Linked DNA regions of Homo sapiens: region 1 is reported to be linked to region 2. Evidence: microRNA targets listed by miRTarBase, many of them from high-throughput screens and not tested one by one. Region 2 holds a microRNA gene; the other region holds the end of a gene's coding sequence.

Region 1 (3,000 bases), not on the chromosome of region 2:
CTTTGCTTTTTTCTCCAGAAAAATTACTCAAGGGTACAAGTTAAATCTCTAAAATACACAGTATCACAATACCAGTTTCTAAAATATTTCTGCAAGAAGTTAAAAGGTTTTGAAAAGATATGCCAGAATGAGTCAACATACAGGTGCTTTTGCTAGGGTTCATTAAAAAAAAAAAAGAAACAAAAAAACACTTGCCCCATTTGAATAATGATTTATCAGGCTTTAGGAAAACTAAATATAAATCAAAAACCTAAGGAAAAATCGATTCTTATTTTCAGATCTTTATCTATTAAGAGGGGATGAAGGGTGGGTAAACGCAGGGATGTAATGGGAGTAGTGTGTACCAATTGTGCAAAATAACTAAAACAATTATGAAATGCTTACATATTCCTGGCCAGTATAACTTGAATTATGAATGAACCATTAAAGACAAAGATTCTTAATCAACCATTTATCTTTTCCTTTTAAAATGTAAGGCATCAAACTTGGAAGATCTATAACTATTTTATTAGACGGTAATATATAAACAAATGACAGTTCAGATAATATTTTTAAAGTGCTATGATCATTGTAACTTTAATCAGATAAAACGTAATTATTATTAACATTTTTACATTATAGCTGATTTGTCTAAATTCTAATTACAATAAAATATATCGTTTTATCTTATCAAATAGTTTTTATATTGAGAGTGAAAGAAACAGTAAAATAGTCAGAGGAAAAACTAGTGCCATACCCAAAAGTATTACTTCAGAAATTTACTTTAATATCATATTTATATTAAAATATTTTATTTGTCTCCATGGTATTTCTATGAGATATTAGACTGTTTGTCCCTATATCCCTATTTTACTCATGGAGAAACAAACATAGTATGTTTAGTAAATTTTTCAAGGTCATTCACTATGTCAGAATAGCGCTGGGAATCTAATTTATTATATTTTTCTTGTACAATACAGCACCTAACACAGCGCCCTAAAAGAGTAGGTATTCAATAAACAGTCATTGAATGAAAGAATTAATGGACAAACCATTCTGTTCTATGAAATCTAAAACATCTATCATATTTGCTATTTCTTTACTCAGTAAATTCAGCAGGCTGGAGGAGCAGTTGAGCAATAAACTTTATGCACTCTCCTACCCACAAGTTTAGATTGTCACCTGAAGGGGCTTTGCAAGATGGTATTGTCTGGTCATTCCTGAAATTATACACTTCCAGGATGTCCCACATACCCCATAAAGAGAGTCATTAATCTGGTTCATGTGACACTGGCTTTCGTGGTGTGAATGTGGTCCACCAGCTTTTGGCAGAGACCAACTTCTTTCACAAAAGTCTCCAAAAATGCATTATTAGTAATGAATGTATTACTGATACCTAGCCTAATGATTTTTAGTGACTGTTTTATATCTTGGTCCTAAAGAACCGTAGTTAGTGGCAATCCTTGAAAATAAATCACTTGGCTAGTATTGGCTCTGGCTATCTCAGGCCTTGCTGATGGTAATTACAATGCTAGAAAGGATAACTCAATTTATTTCCTGAGTTAATTTGTCATAAGTTCAGTTGCAATTGTAAACATGATAAAGGTCACAGAGGCATGACTTTTAGAGTTGATAAAAACAATGTAGTAAAGAACACGAGTATTTATATTACCAGGAATATGACAAAAACATAACAGTCATTCCCAGGGATGCACTGTCGAGTAGATTAAAAATTGTTATCCATGTCATTGGCACTGATGACCAGTTACCTAAAATACAAGTAAGACATCTCACGAAGGCATTTAAGGCTAAAATGAATTCCTTAAACTTTGATGGCATTCATATTTTGCCATTATGAGAAAGAAAAACATTTTACTTCACAGAAAGAATGTATTAAAGTGAAATGAAAATATTTTTATATTTGTCACCCAAATTTAGTGATTGATCTAAAATTTCACCCAGGTGACATTTTTATTAAGACACAGTCTGGAGAAATTTCAGAATTCCACATCTCATTTGCTAATATTTTAAACAAACGATTCACCAGACCTGACTAATTGAATGGTGTATTTCCACTGGACTGAATGTCCTAATTATCATTCAAGACATATCTTAAAGATTTATCAAGCATTTACTCTCCACCTTACCATGTCTAAAGCTCAGAGATATTTTGAGCTCTAAAAGAGTATCACAAGAAATTTATAGCAGTCTGTAGTACAACTATTACCCATTCTTAGAGCAAAGCCACAACTAAAATAGAAATAGACAAAAATAAAATAAAATCATTAAGCATCAACTTATTGGGTAAATTAAGTTTAGATACCCATATGATGCAAAAGGGTCACTTTTATATAAGCTTCCCCATCTTTTAAACTTAGAGCACAGTCTATGTTGTCATTAAAAAAATAATAGCTAACTGAAGCCAGGAATTCATTTTGCAATTGTGTCAATTATTTTAAAGATACCATTATTAAGTAAACTTTAAATTAGTTTGTGTACAACCTTATAGTGACTGGAAATAAGATAAATACAAGCACCCCCTCCCACCGCAGCAAACACACATAACAGATTCTTGAGACTTAGACCCTTAAACATGTCTGCTCATCACTCAATCCATTTGGCCACCCTTTCCGTCCACACCAGGCCAAAGAGCAAAATGTTTTCACAGAAATTCTCTGGGTTGCATATTCTTAATTGCCTGAACTACTGTGGACAAAACATCACATTTTTAAAATCTTAAAGCACTTGTAAGGGTCATACATGTGTGTTTACTGTCCTTGTTGCTTCTGTCCTGGAGAATTTGCTTGACCAGAGCTCTCTCCAGGGCGGTCTGCAGGAGTGAAAGGAAACTGAAATCCATAGCCATTGTACCCATCCAAGTAGACACACTGGAAGAAACTGATGGGACCTAAGGAACAGAGCATGACAGTTTGTTAAAACATGCAGAACATGAGCAAAAAAGCACAGTGAGGCAGTGCAGTGCAGCAGATAAGGTCACAGATTCTGCCAGCAGCCTCCGTA
Region 2 (3,000 bases):
TCTACTAAACTACAAAAAACTAGCCGGGTGTGGCAGCGCGCGCCTGTAGTCCCAGCTACTCAGGAGGCTAAGGCAGGGTAATCGCTTGAACCCAAGAGGTGGAGGTTGCAGTGAGCCGTGATCGTGCCACTGCACTCCAGCCTGGTGACAGAGCAAGACTCCATCTAAAATATATATATATATTTTTTCTTTTGCCATGTTGCCCAGGCTGGTCTCGAACTCTCCTGGCCTCAAGCGCTCCTCCTGCCGTAGCCTCCCAAAGTGCAAGGGTTACAGGCATGAGCCCCTGAGCCCAGCTCCAGAAGACAGGTCTAACCTCATCCTCACCTGCCCAAAGTCCTGTGTGCCCTGACTCCCATTGTTCCTGGAACATTCTCTGCCCTTTCACACCTCAGGCTTCTGCTAGTGCTGGTTCCTTCCAATCCGTGTCCAGGGTCCAGCGGCCCTACCTAGCCAGGCATGGGGGCTGTGCCCCTCGTGCTCCTAGTCCGGCTGCTAACAGCAGTGTCCAGTTTCTGGGAGAGCTGCAGGTGAGCGAGCACCAGGTGGGGAGGCCGTGAGGGTGGGTGTCCCAAGCCCAGTGGAGGATCACAGAGCCACTCAGTGTCGCTGACCACCAGGGAGGGATGGGGCAGTGTGTCACTGATGTGAGGCTCCTTAAGCATCAGTCTGTGAAGGGCCACCAGTGCCCCACGCCCCCCAGGGAAGCGAGGACAGCCCCACCCGCTGTCTAGCCTCACTCGGGGCACTCAGGGTCCTCGCCAGTGGGGCTGGGTTGGGGGAATGCACAAGATGGGGCCTCAGGAGGAAGATCTGCAGGAGACACATGCTTTCTTTGCACGAGCAGTGGCTTGCTTGGGGGAGAGCAGGCTGGGCCCAGAGCGGCCCTTCCCCACCCCATCTCCTTGGTCCTGTGCCGTTTCTGCCCTGGTGTCTGGTCTGGGGTGTGCACCCCACTTCTGCCACCCATTTTGCACCTGCACAGGCAGCTGGCTCCCCAGTTCCCAACAGGCCACCCAGCCAGGCCCCTGGCCCAGCTCCCCACCCATCTCCACCCACCACAGGGCCTCCTCAGTCCCCCACACTCCCAGACCTCAGGTGGTGCCTCCAGAGCGAGCTGTGTCCACACAGGGCTCTACTGGAATGCCTGGCTCTTTGGAGAGGCTGAGGCTGACTGAATGGGCTCTGGGCAGCAGCTGGCACGGATGCCATCCTGGTTGGGGCTCACCTCCAAGAGAAGCGTGTCCGGCAGGTACCGGTCCTTCCAGTGGTCGAGGAAGACCATGTCCAGTGTGTCCACATCATACTTCTTCTTCAGCTGGGGGATGATGTCCTGGGACGCTCCAACCACAAGGGTGACCTGGAACAGCGCCTGTCAGTGCCCACGTCCTCACAGACAGGAGGCCATCCCTACACACCTATACAACAGCGCCTGTCAGTGCCCACGCCCACACAGACAGGAGGCCATCTTTACACACCCATACAAGCATTCATCAGTTTTCTTTAGGGTTCTGGGATGACAAGGCCCCACTCTGTCCCTGCCCCTCCTGGTGCCACCTTGGCAGTTTACCCAGAGCTGTGAGACCCTCACTGAGCTGCTGGGGGGGTCTTTCCTCAGCCCCAGGCTGGGAAGCACTGAGGGGCCTGGTGATAGTGGGTTTTCAGTGAACGTGGTGTGAACACCTGGTGGGGAGGACAAAGTGCGCATGCCCTCCCTGCCCACAGCCGGCCCTTTTTCCAGGTCTGACAACGGGTCAGGCATGCACACCTTGTCCTTCACGCCAGCGAAATCCACCATCCGCTGGGTGATGGCGGCACAGTCGGGGTTGATCTCGATGGTGATGAGCCTCGCCCCTGGTGACAGCAGGCGGGCCATGCGCACAGCTGAGTAGCCACAGTAGGCCCCCAGCTCCAGCAGCACGGAGGGCTGGTGCTCCTGAATCACGGCGTCCACGATCTTGCCTGTGCAGGGTTGGGGACGGAGGAGAGGTGAGCACAGGTGGAGAGAGGGGAACTTGGATCCCCAGGCACGGCCCCCCACCTCTCCCAAAGAGCAGGAGCCCCTCCCAAATGCCTGGCCGCTGGCCCTCCTCTGCCCACCCTCCCTACCCGCTGGAGGGGTATTTCACCTCCCTGGTGTCCCCAGCCCCCAGGACCTGGTCCCCACTGTGAGCGCGCTTGGAGCTCCCATGGTCCCTTAGCCTCTATGCTCACGCTGGTCCCTATCTTTTCCACCCTTCCTGGCTGGCCCCAGTGTGTCCTAACACAGAGCTGCCCTCTCTGAATCACCGAACCGCCCACCTTGGGGCCCTGGGGCGGCACTAGTTCCCTGAGTCACTCCGTGAGCCCGGTAACACATCCTGTGCCCCAGGCTGAAGTTCAAGCGGGAGGCGGGCCCAGGAGAACCTGTCTGACTGGTCCCCAGGCAGGTCCCATGGTGGCCAGAACAGAGTTCAAGGGGAACTGCACCACCGTCAGACCCTGTGAGTGTGGGGGCCTGTTGTCCTGGGGCAGCAGGCAGCAGGGCCTGCAGGGGTCATCAGGGACCCTGGCACCCTGGGACTCCAGAGGAGCCCCCCAGCCCTATCTGGGCATATCCCAGGGTTCCCAGCCCCCTGGAAATGGGGTGATAACAGCTTCTCCTGTAAGGGCTTTGATGCCTGGTCCTGGGTCCCTGTCCCAGAGCTGAGCACCTGCTGGCCCGGACCCCACCTTTCTTGTCGCCCACGTTCATGGCCCACTCCTTCTGCTCGCAGTAGGTGTCAATGGCCTCCAGCACGCTCTGTGCGTTCCCGGGCTCCGCATGCTGCAGCACGTGGTTCAGGATGCGCTGCTCCTTGGTGTCACCCATGAGCAGGTTGTGGATGGGCTGCAGGATGAACTCGTTCCAGCCGATAAGGCACAGGCCCCAGCCCCAGTGCCTCAGAAGCAGCAGCAGCACCACCAGCAGCACCAGGCCCAGCAACACAGCTGCCAACAGCAGAGGCGGGGCCTCCGGCA

The links. Region 2 holds the annotated microRNA hsa-miR-4761-5p (ACAAGGUGUGCAUGCCUGACC, at 1,753-1,773, opposite strand). A microRNA usually pairs through its seed, bases 2 to 8, with sites in the 3' UTR of a target mRNA and lowers its output. Matches are read on the target gene's strand: a 7mer-m8 pairs with bases 2 to 8, a 7mer-A1 pairs with bases 2 to 7 and ends in A, and an 8mer does both.
Region 1: miRTarBase lists TRDN as a target of hsa-miR-4761-5p. Seed matches in the 3' UTR shown: 7mer-A1 at 891-897.

Annotation. Positions count from the first base shown.
Region 1 is chr6:123,215,854-123,218,853 of GRCh38, forward strand. TRDN (triadin) reads right to left here. Exons shown (of 41, transcript NM_006073.4): 41 at 486-2,887. The coding sequence ends at 2,748. Among named protein-coding and RNA genes, the nearest start is that of CLVS2, 220 kb to the left of the region's middle.
Region 2 is chr22:19,962,528-19,965,527 of GRCh38, reverse strand. MIR4761 (microRNA 4761) reads right to left here and starts at 1,775; the gene lies at 1,694-1,775. It overlaps COMT (catechol-O-methyltransferase), which reads right to left. Exons shown (of 6, transcript NM_000754.4): 3 at 2,713-3,000; 4 at 1,769-1,962; 5 at 1,229-1,360. It also overlaps a transcript of ARVCF not described here. RefSeq lists enhancers at 1,287-2,002, 2,003-2,718, 2,719-3,000.